3 separate regions of the Homo sapiens genome follow, and all the other regions are linked to region 1. Evidence: fine-mapped expression QTL. A gene starts in region 1. Each other region holds a variant in brackets. All regions are shown on one strand. Distances are from middle to middle. Region 1 holds the start of WDR41 (WD repeat domain 41). Region 2 overlaps WDR41 (WD repeat domain 41). Region 3 has its middle 64 kb from the start of WDR41.

Evidence for each region. PIP is the estimated chance that this variant, and not a neighbour inherited with it, causes the effect.
Region 2: its variant is fine-mapped to the expression of WDR41 in prefrontal cortex (CommonMind, PIP 0.95).
Region 3: its variant is fine-mapped to the expression of WDR41 in blood mononuclear cells (TOPMed, PIP 0.95).

What each region holds. Positions count from the first base shown.
Region 1 is chr5:77,490,320-77,495,319 of GRCh38, forward strand. It overlaps WDR41 (WD repeat domain 41), which reads right to left and starts at 1,997. Exons shown (of 13, transcript NM_018268.4): 1 at 1,851-1,997. The coding sequence starts at 1,901. RefSeq lists an enhancer at 1,459-2,382 and silencers at 1,503-1,722, 2,163-2,302.
Region 2 is chr5:77,427,666-77,435,698 of GRCh38, forward strand. It overlaps WDR41 (WD repeat domain 41), which reads right to left. Exons shown (of 13, transcript NM_018268.4): 13 at 3,268-5,622. The coding sequence ends at 5,470. It overlaps PDE8B (phosphodiesterase 8B), which reads left to right. Exons shown (of 22, transcript NM_003719.5): 22 at 1-591. Among named protein-coding and RNA genes, the nearest start is that of WDR41, 61 kb to the right of the region's middle. The variant G/C (reference allele first, on the strand shown) is at 5,703.
Region 3 is chr5:77,553,618-77,558,617 of GRCh38, forward strand. It overlaps a transcript of WDR41 not described here. Among named protein-coding and RNA genes, the nearest start is that of WDR41, 64 kb to the left of the region's middle. The variant G/A (reference allele first, on the strand shown) is at 1,973.

The DNA of each region.
Region 1 (5,000 bases):
TCCCTGGTCTATACACATTAGATGCCAATAGAACTGCCCCTCTGCAAGGCATGACAATCAAAAATGTCTCCAGACATTGCCAAATGTCTCCTGCGGGGCAAAAATCACCCCAGTTGAGAACCACTGCTTAAACGAGAAGCCTGGATACAAAGTTATTGCATAAATTAGGGACAATCATAGGTTCCGATAATGTACAAATTCACAGCAGTTATACAACTCAATTAGATTTATATGAAGAAATATATAAATTTAAAACATGCATAAATGTTTTCCAAAAAAAAAACCACCACCACAAAGCATTGATTTTGTATTTATTCTGTCTTCCTTCTAGAAGAGATTGTGGTGAGAAATTTGAAAACTATATAAACTGCTTCTCCTCCAATGAAAACTTGCCAGGAATGGGAGACCTGGTTAAGCAAATAACATGATTAACCAAAGAACCAGGTTAAAACAGAATTATCCAAAATGTCGTATATACCATATATGGCTATTCAATAATCCACAATCTCAAGGATTTAGGATTAATCTGAAATAAGAAATTTTTAAAAACAGACAATACCGTCAACTGCAAAGACATGCGGAAGTTAAAATTGAGAAGACTGCCTACTCTCAACAATCCAATTTCTTACTTTTAACAATCTAAACAAATACTTCTTATGAGAAATAAAATGCAATTCACAAATTCTGTTCTTGTCAGGCCTCTGAGCCCAAGCTAAGCCATCGCATCCCCGGTGACTTGCACATATACGCCCAGATGGCCTGAAATAACTGAAGAATCACAAAAGAAGTGAAAATGCCCTGCCCCGCCTTAACTGATGACATTCCACCACAAAAGTGAAAATGGCCGGTCCTCGCCTTAAGTGATGACATTACCTTGTAAAAGTCCTTTTCCTGGCTCATCCTGGCTCAAAAAGCTCCCCTGAGCACCTTGCCCCACTCCTGCCCGCCAGAGAACAACTCCCCTTTGACTGTAATTTTCCTTTACCTACCCAAATCCTATAAAACGGCCCCACCCCTATCTCCCTTCGCTGACTCTCTTTTCGGACTCAGCCCGCCTGCACCCAGGTGATTAAAAGCTTTTATTGCTCACACAAAGCCTGTTTGGTGGTCTCTTCACACGGACGCGCATGAAAGTTCTTGTGTGGCATACGAAATAAATTTGGGACCTCAAAATTTCCAAGACTGCAAAAATTATTTTATTCACATTTCAAATGTAAATTTCATTACACACGGTCTATTCAATTATTCGGGCCCATGAAGAAAGTGTGACTATGAAACCAAAAACAGCAGTTAATTAGAAAATCATGTTCTTGACCTTGAAGCAGATTACTTTTTAAAAATAATTATATCCTTTTTCGGTTGTTGGATAAGTAAATTAATTTTATATTCCCTGACCAAGTATCAGTAGACGCCAGGAAGAGACACCAATTCAAATAAACCAAAAGTGGAAAGCTGCGGTCACAACTCGTTCGTTTCTAGCTAAATCGTATACTTTTTAAGTGGAAATGAAGATAGTTTCGGTAGCCAGAAGCCCTAAGTTGTCACAGGTCCCAATAGGACTGCTGACCAGCTGAGCGTCCCTGAGCCAGGATCTCACGATTCAGCTAGCCGTGGGACGGGGCCGGGGGTCTGCAGCTCCAGGGTGCGCCTGGGGTCCCGCCGGGTCTGAGGAGCTCCGGCTCCCGCGCCCTCCGCCCCCACCGTCGTGAGAACAGCGCGTGGCACGAGCTCAGCAGCCAGCCCCGCCTCCGCCCGGGTCCCCGCGGTCGGAACCCAGGAAGGCCGAACCGGAACGAAGCCGCCCCTCCAGCAAGCTCGACGGACGCAGAGCAGACCCACCCGGGGTTTACCTCGGCCAGTCCCTGCGGTTCTCGGCCTCCCCCGATCAGCCATCGCAACATCCGGGCAGCGGCGGCGTCTTGCCCGGTCCAGCCCCAGTCAGCCCAAACTCCGCCCCAGGCTCGGCCTCCTCCTTCCTCCCCGGCTGCAGCGCAACTGAGACGCTAATACTTCCCGCCCCAGATCAGCCCACGGGCCGAAGGAATGCAGACCACAGTTGAGGGAGAATTTTTGTCCCCAAAGCGCTCCCGTACCCAGCCACGGAGGCTTAGTTTGGGCAGTCGCTTGGGGTGCGGCGGCCGACGGCGGGGGCGGCTGCGGCGATTGCGGGGCGCGCGCTGCTCCGAGTGAGCACGCGCGGGAGCGCCGCCGGGTAGCGCACGGAGCTTAGGTAGCTCGAGCGGCCCCTGGTGGACGCGCGCGGAGCAGCAACCCGACCCCGGCGAGCAAGCGCGCACGAAGAATAATGCCCCTCCCTGTGACATGGCTTTAGTATCCTCCACTTCCTAGGGTACCAGGAAATCTCCCCTGCTTTCCCAAGAGCTTGCTGAAGAAGGTGTACCGCAGTAGACTTCTGCATCCAGACAAATCCAGTGGCTCATGTGTACAGCCGAATAAATCCGGCCAACATTTACTGTGTGCTATAGTACAGCTACTGTGCTAAGGCTTTACATAAATCCTCATGGTAAACCTATATCCTCTATTTTACACATCAAGAAACTAAAGCTCTGAATGATTAGGTAATTTGTCTAAAGATAACAGCTAGGAAGTGGCTACATTGGTAGTGTTCTTGACCGTATGCTATATTAACATAGAATCTCCCTAAAGAATAGAAGGCAGTTCATATACCTTTTTTTGACTACTACATTTTCTTAGGTAGTCAAAGGGCTGTGGTTATCTATGCTGACTGCATATCAGAATTACCTGGGTAGCTTTTGAAAATGTAGATTCCTGGCTTCCACCTCAGACTCATTAAAATAATCTTTGTGGTTGGGACGTAGGAATCGGGGTTTTGGGAAGGCTCCTCAGGTGATTCTGATGAGTAGCAAGGTCTGAAAATCACTGGTCTAGGAACTACTTATACATATCATGTTTGCAAAAGTATAAATATATATATTTGCATATGTATTAGGTTCAAATAATCCTCCTAGCAGTAAATTGTTGTAGGGAATCTACAAATGTCCCAACTAATGCATTAATTCAGCAAACATGTATTGGACACAGATGCACTAGAGAAGCAGAAAGGAATCACATAAAATGCTGCTCTGGAGGGACAAGGCATAATGTCCCAGTCACCAATAAGAGAGAGCCATACATCCCACTTTAAGCTAAGTTGGTTGTGAGCAGCTACACAAACTTACAGTCCCTCTGGAACTCGGATCTCCTATAATTCATCTTTGTATTCCTTTTGAGTGCACTCGGCAAGAACACACTCCCAAGGATCAGGAGCATGTTGCCTTCTGTGTGCTAGCCCCAAATTGCAGTCTGCATACAGTTGAAGACAGACCAAAACAGAGACTATCCCCTGGGAAAGAGGGACTTATCTTTAAGTAAAACAAAACTCAGAGACATCAGGAGTTCAGTTCTGGAAGGAATATCTTCACGTGAGACAATGTGGTTGCCCAAATAGCCTACATTTTATTCTTCTGATTATCCACATTCTTTAGGGTTTGCCCCATGCTCTTTAGGGTTTGCCCAATGCCACATTACTCTGATGTAAGGGACATTCTGCTGATGCTTTAAAGCACTGGTCCAGGGTTGAACACTTCCTCCCTTGGTTCCTCTTAGGACAGCTAAGAAAGAATTTTTTACAAGATTAGTATATTATTGGGCACACAATGTATAAAGATGTAATTTGTGGCATCAATAGAAAGGGTGGGGGTGGAGCAATATAGGAGCAGAGTCTTTGTATGCTATTGAAGTTACGTTGGTATAAATTAAAATGAGATTGTTATAACGTTAGGATGTTAAATGTAATTCTCATGGTAAACACAAAAATACCTGTAAAATATACATAAATGGAAATGATCAGGGAATCAAAACATTTACTACAAAAAATAAGCTAAATACAAAAGATGGCAGTAATAGAGAAAATGAGGTACAAAAAAACTATAAGGCATATAGAAAACAAATAGAAAAATAGAAATTCCTCTTTATCAGTAATTACTTTAAATATAAATAGATTAAACTGTCCAAAGAAAAGGCAGATTGACAAAAAAAAACCAAACTCTAGAATCCAACTATATGCTGTCTATGAAAGACTGACTTTAGATCAAAGACACAAATAGATCAAAAGGGAAAGAATAGAAAAAGATATTCCATGCAAATAGTAACCAAAAGAGAACTGGAGTGGCTGTACTAACAGCTGACAAAATAGACTTTAAATCAAAAAAGTTTTCAAAGACAGAAACATTATGTTATATATTAATAAAATAGTCAATATAGCAAGAAGATAAAACAATTACAAATATTTACACACCTAATAATAGACCCTCAAAATTTATGAAGCAAAACTTAACAGAATTGAAGAAAGATATAGTTCTACAACAATGGTAGCAGACTTCATCTGTCCACTTTCAATAATAGATAGAACAACCAGACAAGGTAAAGAAATAGAGGACATAAACAACACAATAAACTAATTACATCTAACATATAAAGAACACACTACCCAACAACATCAGCATAAACATTCATCTCAAGCACATGTAAGACATTCTCTTAGATAGACCATATGTTAGGCCACAAAATAAGTCTCAATCAATTTTAAAAGATAGATATCACACAAAGTATCTTCTCTGACCACAACAGGAATCAGTGACAGAAGTAAAACTGGAAAATTCACAAATGTGTTGAAATTAAGCAAAACACTCAAACAACCAATGAGTCACAAGAAAAAGCAGCACAAAAGAAATTATAAAATACCTAGAGACAAAAACACAACACGACAAAACTTACGGGATGCGGTAAAAGCAGTACTTAAAGGGAAATTTATAGGTATAAATGTCTACATTAAAAAAGAAGATCTAAAATCAATAACCTGACTTTATACCATAGGAACTTGAAGTAGAAGAGCAAATGAAACCCAAAACTAGTAGGAGGAAGGAAATAATAAGAATTAGAGCAGAGATAAACAAAATAGAGAATAGAAAAAATAGAGC
Region 2 (8,033 bases), 61 kb before region 1:
TATTAATTGTATGCTAAAAGCTTCTAAAGCACAAGTGCATATTTTTATACTGCTCTTTTCACAACTCCCTGTGATCTACATAAAGTCAGACTCGAGATTTTCCTTTCTCTTTTACCAGCTGATCCTTCCTATGTATTATAAATATTAGACTCCGTAAACAAACTTCATTTTTCTTTCTCTGTACTTCATGCTGCATTTTTAAAAGGTATAAACAAACAGAGACTGAATTAATTGAATCAGTAATTACTTTTTTCCAATACAAATTGGAATGCAGAATACTTGGAACTTGTACATGGGGAAAAAATGACTTATCACTACATAATGTGCCAATGTTTTTTTCTATGTTTTGTACCAAAAATGGAAAAATATGACAATTCCATGCAAAGAAATGTATCTAAATTATTTTTGTTAGATGATAAGAGAACTTGCTTGGTCAGGACAGCAGCCAGCTTTGTATTGTAATGCTATATTATGTAAATGTGATGAAAATGTTTTTGTGAAGTACTTGTAACTAAATTCCTACAGCCATTTTTCACTCCCAACAGCTGTTTTTATTTTACCTCTTTGGCCTAAAGTTTTCATAATTTCAAATTTGGGGTTTAGTGTCCTTTATTTCATGAGTCACACACTTTGTTTTCAGAGCACATTAAAATCAGGATGCCAGAATCCCATATTAAGGACCTAGCTAACTTGCCTAGGCTTCAGAAGCTTGCTTGAGGCAAGGACAATCTTTTTCTGATCATCTCACTTTCAGTTCTATTTGGTAAGTAACATTTATCAGGTGTCAGACATCTTCTATATGAAATATTTACAGCTTACTCAGTTTTATGTCAAATTTCTTGTTAACTTCAAACTTTTTATTAGTAATGTGCAAATGTTTAAAAATGCTTTAAGACAGCTAGGTACTAAAGCGTCAACAATTTCTGCTCTTTACCAGTGTAATCTACGGTATAATCTTCTGGCCTGCGAACTAGTCTATTCTTCCACATAGTCAACTTGTTAGAAATACAGGCTTTCAGATGATATGTGTATCAGATAGTTTATATTATATAAACTATTATAACTGCCTCTTACACAGAGTTGTTTACTTAAATGTCATGTGCTGAGGAGGGCCGTATTAGGAAAATGCAACACTCTCTAATAATTTCCGTGACTAGTAAGAGAAGGAAGCCAGTTATAAAACACTGCTGGACCAGAATGACCCTATAATTTCCTAAGATCATTCTTTATTTCTAATTTAAGATTTTTAAATTTACTTGCCCTCCATGTCAGGACTGGTTAGCATTCTGGGCAAAAAAAAAACAAGCCTGTCAGTTCACTCAGAACCTACTCAGCTTTAGAGAGAGAAACAGAAGGGATGATCTTGTGCCCTTGCGCTATGTGAATATAGCCAGAGACTGAGGTAATAAATATATTTTAAAATAAAAATGACAAGGGATTTGTACACTGTAACACTATGTAGTGTTACTTCTGCTGTTGCAAGTATCTTAACTGTTGAAAGCTAAACTCAGGAAATGGAGAAAATGTACATAATATACATTGACCCATTATTTTATTCTAAATTGAAAGTCCAACTTTTAGCAGCAGTCTACCTGCAACTACTGAACACCATCAGGTTTGAGTCCCTACCAGAATCTCCCATCATACTGTTATCCCCCATCTCTGTGACCTTAGGGCATGCATGAAAACAAAAGCAATCTAGTCCCTAGGGTTGGAGACTGCCCTCTAGACAGTTTTTCATGGCAGAAAATTAGAATACAAGTATACCTCATTTTATTGCATTCTGCTTCATTGTGCTTCAAAGATACTGCCTTTTCTACAAATTGAGGGCTTGTGGCCACCCTGCATAGAGCAAGTCTATCGGGGCATTTTCCCAGCATGGGCTCACTTTGTGTAAGTGTCACATTTTGGTAACTCTTAGAGTATTTCAAATGTTTTTATTCTTGTATCTGTCATGGTGGTCTGTGATCAGTGATCTTTGTTACTACTGTAATTGTTTTAGGGTACTGCAAACCATGCCCGTATAAGACAGTGAACTTAATTGATAAATCTTGTGTATATTCTAACTGTTCCACCAACTAGCGGTTTCCAGTCTCTCCCTCTTCTTAGACCTCCCTATTCCCTGAGACACAACAATATCGAAATTAAGCCAATTAATAACCTACAGTAGCCTGTAAATGTGCAAGTAAAAGAGTCACATGTCTCTCACTTTAAATCAAAAGCTACAGATAATAAAGCTTAGTGAAGAAGGCATGTTGAAAGCCCAGGCAGGTGAAAGCCATGCCTCTTACACCAGTTAGCCAAGTTATGCAAAGGAAGAGTTCTTGAAAGTGTTAACTCCAGTGAACATGCAAACAAGAAAGTGAAACAGCCTTACTGCTGAGATGGAGAAAGTCTGAGTGGTCTATATAGATTAAACAAGCCACAACATTCCCTTAAGCCAAAGCCTAATTAATTCTTCAATTCTTTCTTCGAAGACTGAGAGGTGAGGATGCTACAGAAGAAAAGCTGGAAGCAAGCAGAGGTTGGTTCATGAAACTATCCCCATTAACGTCAGAGTGCAAGGGACAACAACAGCAGGAAGTTGTCCAGATGATCTAGCTAAGATCACTGAAGGCGACTACACTAAACAACTGAGTTTGTGAAGATGAAATGGTCTTCTATTAGAAGAGATGTCATCTAGGACTTCATAGCTGGGGAGAAGAAGTTCAATGCCAGCGAGTGTAGTTGGTGCCTTTAAGTTGAAGTCAGAGTTTATTTACCAGTCCAAAAATCTTAAGGCCCTTAAGAATTATGTTAAATCTACTCTGCCTATGCTCTAGAAGTGGAATAACAAAGCCTAGATGACAGCATATCTGTTTATAGCATGGTTTATTGAATATTTAAGCCTATGGTTGAGACCTGCTCAAATTTCTTTCCAAATATTACTGCCCATTACAATGTTACCTGGTCACCTAAGAGTTCTGATGGAGATGTACAAGGAGGTTCATGTTGTCTTCGTGCCAGCTACCACAACATCTATGCTGCAGTCCATGGGTCAAGGAGTCACTTTGACTTTTAAGTCTTATTTATTTAAGAAATACATTTAATAAGGCTGTAGCTGCCCTAACTAGTGATTCCTCTGAAGAGTCTGGGCAAAGTCAATTGAAAACCTTCTGGGAAGCATTTAGCATTCTAGATGCCACTAAGAACATTCTGATTCATGGGAGGCGGTCAAAATTCCAGCATTAAAAGGAGTCTGGAAGAAGTGGAGCCTGAAGATGTGAATGAATTGCTGTAATCTCATGATCAAACTTTAATAGATGAGAAGTTGCTTAAGAATGTGTATAGAAAGTGGTTTCTGGAGACAGTCATTTCCACAGTGAAGATGCTGTAAACATAGTTGAAATGACAACAAAGGATTTAGAATATTCTATAAACTTAGTTCATAAAGGAGCATCAGGATTTGAGATGACAGACTCTAAATTTTGAAAGAAGTTCTACTGTGGGTAAAATGCTATTAAATAGTATTACATGTTACAGAGATCTCATTTGTGAAAGGAAGTCAATTGATTTGGAAAACTTCATCGCTATCTTATTTTAAGGAACTGCCACAGCCACCCCAACCTTCAGTAACCACCTTAGTCAACAGCCAGCAGTATCAAGACCCTCCACCAGCAAAAAGATTATGACTCGCTGAAGGCTCAGATGATTGTTAGCATTTTTTAGCAATAAAGTATTCTTAAGGTATGTACATTTTTTAGAAATTTAAGACTGTAGTATAAACACAAGTTTTATAGGCACTGGGAAACCAAAAACTAGATGTGACTCACTCTATTTGCAATAGTTGCTTTTTTGATGTGGTCTGAAACCTAACCTGTAGTATCTCTGAGGTACGCCTGTATAATGACCAGAAGGAATTTGCTGTGGTACTTACGGTACCATTTGCTTCCAAAATTCATGTGATTTCTACCACTCCATTTGAATAGATTACTATCACAAAATACTAGCCTAGAACAGGCTAGGAAGTAAAACAGTTAAGTCTATGGCTCCCTTGTGTCATACAACTTCAGAAAACAACTTTACAAATGTATGGGCCAATGCAGAATTTCTAAAGGAAAAAGCACGTGAATAATGGGAGAAAGTCTTCTGTAATTGAGGTAGCTTAAGTTTTAATATTTCTCCATAGAACTTTTCATGACTCAATGTTGTTTGGATTTAAAGTAGTCATATAAGCCTTTTCTCATTCAGTCTTCAGTTCCTGTTTTTAGAGCTGCTTGGTGATACTGGGCACTACAGATTTAATTGCAAGGCCTTACTGCACTGGGCCTCAGTTTCCTCATTTGTAACATTATGCCACTGGTCTACTCAGATGACCTTAACTCTTCCAGTCTTTGTAGGTAGTTGTGGAAGCAACTGTCAAAGCTAAAACTAGTAAAAGAACTTATGGAGATTCCCTTTAGGGTATATTTGTAGTATATTTGTATAATGAACAAATAAATCTGTAGGTTTTCTGTAAGAAGGGTCAGTCTGCTAACATCTGTCACGTTGCCCTTTCTTCATCAGTAGTTTAAGAATTTCAATCTTTAATGTGTAGACTACTTTCTAATATTTTCATTTTTTAGCACCAAAAGGAGAAAACATATTGTTACAAGGCTGGTTATAGTGTCTCAATGGACACTGCAAAGAACTACATAAAAGAAGTCTGTCTCAAGCAGTTCGTATTTGAGTCAGTGGTCAGATGGGGCAGTTGCGCTCAGCTGCAGTCCCTGACTCCGGAAACACTGTGCCTCTCAAATGATCTAGAGCTCATCCTTGGCGTACATGAGGGGCAGTTGTTGTTCTAGTACCCATTTAGCCCATGGCTCTTCAAGCCAATTCACACTGGGAAAAACACACCCTCACAAGATGCCTATCCATTTGAGTTCATACAGGTTTTAGTAGCTAGAACTAAAAAACATTTTTAAAATTATCTAAACAAATTGGTACCAAAGAAAACTTGCCATACTTAAACAGTATATATGTTCCCTTTTTTGGCTGAGAGATTCAAGTTTGTGCTATATAGAACACTAACAGTTACTAAAGACTAGGAAAATTTGCAGGAGAAAGGCTATTTTTAAACTTCACAATAATTCTAAAGGAAGCCAAATAATAAAACTTCTAATAAATGCCATAACTTAACTATTACCTCTATTTGTACCTTTCACAAGGATCTAGGTTCAAAATAAGCTCAAAACACAGCACTCACCACTTCAACAGCAGCTCAAAGTCAAATGGAAAAACTTGTGGTATATTCTTTGGAGGATATACTAGGACCTGAGAAGCAACATGTTCCTGGTTGGTAGGTCCACAAAAAATTTAAACATGTAGAATTTTATGGACTGACAAAAAAAATTACCAATTTAAGTGATCAATATATTAATGGTTTTCAGAGTAGTACCCGATATTTGATGTTCAAGGTTCATGCATGTGTATTTTTAATTCCTTAAACTAGACAGCAAGGTATAAGTCACCATTCTCCTCTAATTTTTGAAATAATCTTAAACTGCGCAATCCAGATTCTCGCTCTCCATTTTTCCACAAAATAATGAGATGATCAGCGGAGCACGTCACTAGTCCATGATCTTCAAAGTATAGAAACATCTGTAAAGAAAATTAAAACTGATTATAGGGACCCCGAAAAGCAGAGAAGTGTCTAATACCACATTAACACATGTGCGTGT[G/C]AGATATGTGCCTTAAAGACTCCTTTGGATCTGGGTGTAGAACTTCATTTCATTTTTCAGTATTGGTAAGTCACATACAAATAATATCTAATATTTTAATCAGAATTTTGTTAATATTGTTCAACTACAGAATAGCTATTTTTGTAAAGTACATGAATTCTCATAGTTCTTCCAGATTTTTTCATCATCTGATTTTTCAAGTATTGGTTTTACTTAACCATTACTTATACTGTATAATGGCTATGGAAAAAATGTCTGAATTCTAAATTTCCCAAGATAAACACTGGCTTCAGCTCTCTATAAAAGTAGATATACTCAATCCATAGGTGTTAAGTGTCAGCACTACGTTTATGGTCCCTACCCTCAAGAAGATTCTGAAAAGCAAATCATAATTGAAACAATAAAGGTACCAATGAGAGATTATGTAATCAGGTACTAAATAATGCAGTATAGACTATGACATGTCACAGAAATTCAGAAAAAGCTTCAAAGGGAGAAAATGCCCCAAGTAAGGGGAAGGGGCTTGCCCAGTGAAGGAATAGGCTGGAAGCTAAGAATAGGAAAACAGAGTGTTGACAAAAGGCAGCATGAATACTATGGGGTGAAGAGTTGTATCAGAAAAGTGAATCAATGAAAAGGATGAGGTCCTCGAAGGAAAGGGTGAAATAAAAGAGAAACAGGGCCGGGCGTGGTGGCTCACACCTGTAATCTCAGCACTTCGGGAGGCTGAGGTGGGTGGACTGCCTGAGGTCAGGAGTTTAAGGCCAGCCTGGCCAAACATGGTGAAACCCTGTCTATACTAAAAATTAGCTGGGTATCTGTAATCCCAGCTACTCGGGAGGCCGAGGAAAGAGAATCGCTTGAACCCAGGAGGTAGAGGTTGCAGTGAGTGGAGATTGCGCCATTGTACTCCAACCTGGGCAACAAGAGCAAAACTCCCTCTCGGGAAAAAAAACAAGAGTTTTCTCTGAAATGACATATACATTTCTGAAGACCACAGGATAAGACTCAGCTGAGGATGCAGGAGTGAAGGGAGGAAACATGGGAGCAGAATTCCTTCGGAAACTGGAAAACACAAAATTCAGTACACAGGTAGAGGGGTTGCGCCAGTAGAGCAAGGATGAAAATAGAAATGAGGACCAGCCTGGCCAACATGGTGACACCCCATCTCTACTAAAAGTACAAAAATTAGCTGGGCGTGGTGGCGGGCACCTGTAATCCCAGCTACTTGGGAGACTGAGGCAGGAGAATTGCTTAAACCTGGGAGGCGGAGAGTACAGTGACCCAAGACTGCACTCCAGCCTGGGCAACAGAGTGAGATGCTGTCTCAAAGAAAAAAAAAGAAATGAGGAAATTCAGGTGACACTGCAAAGATAGCCTAGATTTTATCAACGAAGCTGGAGATGCTTTTTAAAAGTGTTCAGGTCTCAACACTTTCACTCAGGAAAATTCCTAAGAAGCTGACACTGTTTTATAGAATGAGAAATGTGCCACATTCAAACACATTTTGAATGTCTTTTACATGGGGTTTTCCCTACCATCTAAAAACCTTTTTAATGAGTTCCTACTATTTAAAAAATAAAGTCCAAACTCCTCAGCCTTACATTCAAGGACATCCATAATCTGACCCCAAACCACGTTCCCAGGCTTTATCCCCTACTAGTGTCTGTTCACAGGAACCCAGCGCTCCGGCCTAGCCAAGGTGCTCCTTGCCACCACGTAAATGCTATCTTTGCCCTTCTGCCTACCACAGTCCATGCTCACCTCCCAACCATAAACACAAAGTTAAAAACTGAGCTACTTGTTAGAGGAAAGCAAAGATAACTATGACACTGTACCCCAACATCAAGGAGCTTATGATGACAAGGCTATATACTCATCCTACTAAACTTCAAGGTTCAGCTCAAGTGTCAAGTCCTATATCCTCTAACCATTTACAAGATTCAGCAAGAAATGTTTCTTCTGAGTCACTGCTGCTTACTTGGGTCCATCAAATGCAGCCTAGGGTAACAGCCTATTAGGTCTATACCCCTTCTCTCCACTCAAGGGTAAGATCCATGAGGGCAAGGACTGTTTTCATCTCTCTCTGTAAACTCCAGCAGCCAGTGTTTAGCACAGTGCCTGAAATACAGGAAATGCTCACTAACAAGGATGCTGCCGCTGCTCCTCCTAAGCATGAATGCCCTTTCAAATGAAAAGAAATTTTTTGTTCTTTGGCTATGAAACAGGGAAGAACAATTTAAGAAATTCCTTAGGGCCCTGATTACACTGTTATTAGTTCTCACAGCTAATCTGTTACCTCAACTGATCTTATTCCTTCACTACAGGCAA
Region 3 (5,000 bases), 63 kb after region 1:
AAATCTATTAAATGAACAAAAGACATAAACAGACATTTACCAAAGATGATAAAAATAAGCACATGAAAAGATATTCAATATCATAAGCTGTTAGGAAACTTTAAATTAAAACTACAATGAGATACCACTACACACATATCAACATGACTAAGATTTTAAAAAATAACACCACCAAATGCTGGCAAGGATGCAGAGAAACTGGTTCACTCATACATTACTGGTGGGAATGTAAAATGGTAAGCCACTCTGGAAAAGAGTTTAACAGTTGTTTAAAATGTTAAACTTGCAACTACCATACAACCCAATAATTGCACTTCTGGACATTTATGCCAGAGGAATGAAAGTTATTTTAACATAAAAACCCAAATAATTAATGGTTATAGCAGCTTTATTTGTTATTGCTAAAAACTGGAAGTCAACAGATGGTTAAAGAAATTGTGGTATATGCACAACATGGAATTCTACTAAGCAATAAAAATAAATAGTCGGTTGATACATATGACTTGGATGTCTCTAGGGAATTCTGCTGAGTACAATGATATAGTGTTTTATAATCCCCAAAAGTTACACACTACATTATTCCATGCATATAAAATTTGGGGAGTGCCAAATTTTAGAAATGGAGGATCGATTAGTGGTTGCCAGATGGTAGAGATTGGTGAGGGGAGGTAGGGAAGTAGTTGTTCTGGTCTGAATGTTTCTGTCCCCCTGAAATTCTTACGTTAAAATCTAATCACCAGTGAGATGGTATTAGAAAGTGGGACCTTTGGGAGGTGATTAGGTCATAATGGTAGAGCCCTCGTGAATAGGATTAGTGCTCTTGTAGAAGAGATCCCAGAGAGCTAGCTCACCCTTCCCACCATGTGAGGACACAACTACAAAGTACCTTTCTAGGAGACAGGCCCTCTCCAGAAACTGAATCTGCTGATGTATTGATCTCGGACTTCCCAGCCTCCAGAACTATCAGAAATAAATTTGTTATTATTATATAATATAAATTTTTTATAATTTATAATATATAGTATAATTTATAACTTATTTAGTATAATTTCTGTTGTTTATGAGTTTATAGTATTTTGTTATAGCAACACAAATGGACTAAGACAGTGGTGTAGTTATAAAGAGCAACAGGAAGGATCCTTGTTGTGCTGGAACTGTTTAGTATCTTGAACAGTGGTAGTGGATACAAGAATCTACATAGCTGATAAAAGTGCCTAGAGGCCGGGTGGGGTGGCTCATGCCTGCAATCCCAGCACTTTGGGAGGCTGAGGTGGGTGGATCACTTGAGCCCAGGAATTCGAGACCAACCTACAAAATATACAAAAATTAACTGGGCACAGTGGCATACACCTGTAGCCCCAGCTACTCAAGAAGCTGAGGTGGGAGGATTCATTGATCCCAGAAGGTGGAGGCTGTACCTGATTGTACCACTGCATTCCAGCTTGGGTGAGACAACAAGACCCTGTTTCAAAAAAAAAAAAAAATACAAGTATATAGAACTTAACACACACACTCGTACAATTCAAATTGGAAAAATCTAAATAAAATCAGTGAATTGTATTAATTTTCTGGTTGTAATACTATGCTATTATTTTCAAAAATGTTACCGTTGGAGGAAACTGGGCAAAGTGTACAAAGGATCTTTCTGCGTTGTATCTTAAACTGCATATTACTCTACAATTATCTTTTATTTAATTCATTTATTTATTAAGACAGGGTATCACTTTGTCACACAGGCTGAAGGGCAGTGGCATGATCACGGCTCACTGCAGCCTCAACTTCCTTGGCTCAAGTGAGCCTCCCACCTCAGTCTCCCAAGAAGCTGGGACTACAGGTGCACACCACCACACCCAGCTAATTGTTTTGGTTTTTAGCAGAGGCAAGGTCTCGCTATGTTGTCCAGGCTGGTCCTGAACTCCTGAGCTCAAGAGATCCTCCTGCCTCAGCCTCCCAAAGTGCTGGGATTACAGGT[G/A]TGAGCCACCCCGCCTAGCCTGTAATTATCTTTAAAAAAGACATTAATTACAACAGCATCCGAAAATATAAAGTGCCTAGAAATGAATCTAACAAACAATGGGTAAGATCCTTATGAAGAAATTATAAAATTTTATTGAAAGAGATAAAAAGACTAAATAAATGAAGTATAAATCTTATCCTCATGGATTGGAAGACAAATTCATAAAGATGTAAAGATTCAATACTATTTCAATCAAAATCCTAACAAGGTTTCTTTGTGGAAACTAACAAGCTGATTCTAAAATTCATATGGAAAGAAAAGAGCCAAGAATTAAACACTACTGAAGAAGAAAAACAGAAGGAAGAGACTTGCCTTACCAGATATCAGGTGTTTTATAAAGCTGGAGCAATTAACACAGTGGCATTTGCACAGAAATAGCAAAAATAACCAACAGTTGAAAACAGAGAACCCAGAACCCAGAAACAGGTTTGATTTTTGACAAAGGTGGTGGGGAAAAGATGGACTTTTTTTTTTTTTTTTTTTTTTTTTTTGAGATGGAGTCTCTCTCTGTTGCCAGGCTGAAGTGCAGTGGTGCGATCTCGGCCCGCTGCAACCTCCGACTCCCGGGTTCAAGCAATTCTCCTGCCTCAGCCTGCCGAAATAGCTGGGATTATAGGCCCATGCCACCACGCCCAGCTAATTTTTGTATTTTTAGTAGACATGGGGTTTCACCATGTTGGCTAGGCTGGTCTAGAACTCCTGACCTCAAGTAATCCACCCACCTTGGCCTCCCAAAGCGCTGGGATTACAGGCGTGAGCCGTTGCACCCGACTGACTGACTGTTTGTTTGTTTTGAGGTGGAGTCTCGCTCTACTGCGCAGGCCAGAGTGCAGTGGCATGATGTCGGCTCATTGCAACCTCTGCCTCCTGGGTTCAAGCAATTCTCCTACGTGTAGCCCCCAAGTAGCTGGGATTACAGGCACGCGCCACCACACCCAGCTAATTTCTGTATTGTTTGTGGAGTTTTAAATTTAATATCACTAAGACAGCTGGTTATTCATGTGGGGAAAAAAGTGAAATTGGGTCTTATTTTTGTGGTTGCCCCATGAAAGGTGAGCTCAATGCCCCCATCCAAAACTGGTTCAGATATCAAGATTGTTGATACCACATTTACAACAAGAAGGTATTTTAAAAGTTTATTACACACAATGAGGCTTTCTGGTCAGAACAGGACAGGCATCCAAGCCAGTTCTAAATGGCTTGAGGGAGGGAGAGAAAAGGGTCTTTGATTTTTAATGTGGTCAGTGATAGGGCCAGTATGAGGGATGATTTGAACTTCTCCTTGGCACCAAGGGAGGGGGCACCTGGGGTTTCTAATCAGCTTTGCCAGATGCTGGGCAAGAGGGAAAGGGGGAGGGGTGGAGCCTGAAAGCTGTTGGTAGTCAAACATCAAAAATGGAATTAGATTATTTATTACAGATCCCTTTTACACACATAAACAAAAAATTCCTTGTGGATTAGGAGTTATATTAAAAGCAAAAGTATGAAACTTTTAAAAGACAAAATTGAAGAATATCTTTATGATCTCAAGGTAGTGAAAGATTTACTAGACATAGCACAGAAAGTACTAACCATAAAGAAAAAGTGATAAATTTAACTCTAGTATATTAAAGTTAAAAACTTCTGTTTAAAAGCAAAACAAAACAAAAAACCATTAAGAGAATAAATAAGTAAACCACACTCTGGGAGAAGTGATTTGTTACACCCTAAAAATGAGCCCCCAAAATTGTACCCAGAATATACAAAGACCTACTATAAGTCACCAGAGAAACACACACAATCCAATAGAGAATGGACAGAAGACTTGAGCAAGCATTTCACAAAGAGGTGGCAGAAGTAACCAAAAGTATAAAAAGATAAAAGATGCTCACAGTAAGATGACATTTCACATCTGTAAAGCTTGCAAAAATTAAAAATTCTGACAATATTAAATGTTAGCGTGAGCCACTAGAACACTTGTACACTTCTCATGGCAGTAGGAATCAGTATAGTCGCTTTGAAAAAGCAGTCTGGCATTAATTGCTTAGTGGATTTGAAGGCATGCAATTCCACTCCTAGGCACGTACCTACAGAAACTCTTGCACATATACACCAAAATACATGTGTAGTAATACTCAGAGTATAGTGACACTATTCATAATAGAGAACAATGAAAACAGCCCAAATGTTTACCAACAGTAGAATGAATAAACTGTGGCATATTCATACAATGGACTATTAGGTGAGAGTTAAAAGTAATGACTTATAGTAGAAGCAATGAAGTTACAAAAGAATGTATACGGTATGATTATCTTTATATAAAGGCCAAAAACATGCAAAATTAAACAACATATTGTTTAGAAGAAAAAATGTGGCAATGCAGTGAGTAAGAACAAGCAAATAAAAACCCCACGTCAGTGTAATGATTACCTTTAAGTAGGGAGGGAAGAAATGAACACATAGGGAACTTCAAATGTTCTTTTTAAAAAAAAAAAAAAAAAAAAAACAAAACAGGAGTAGGTATGTAGGTAATCGTTAAAATGCGATTCTTCAAATGTTAATATATTTTAAATTAATATTTAACTTTAAAAAACAATTTGTATAAAGAAAAATCATTGCTCTTGAATTCTCTTTCTGTTTAGGAAAGGAAAATTTACCATTGTGACATTTTTAGTGTCTTATGAGCTTTTCCTTGTGCATGAGTAAAAATCTAAGAAAAATAGAAAAGGAAATTGAAAAAGAATATTCTTACATATGTGCCAGGCAACAGCAGACAGCCCACCTTTCCCAGGGAGTCTGGCTACACAAAGGCCTATGGAGGCAGAGCAGATTGCCGCATTCACCAAAAGAGCCTCGCTGACCTGCACCGAATTCCCCAGAGGACTGGGCCCTACTTATTTTTACATCATTAGCCCTCTTGGGGCAGGCTGAGGTCATTTCCAATTTGAAAACGACCTTGGATCACAAGCTGAAGTTTTCCATTTGTTTACGCTATTAAACATCCTGA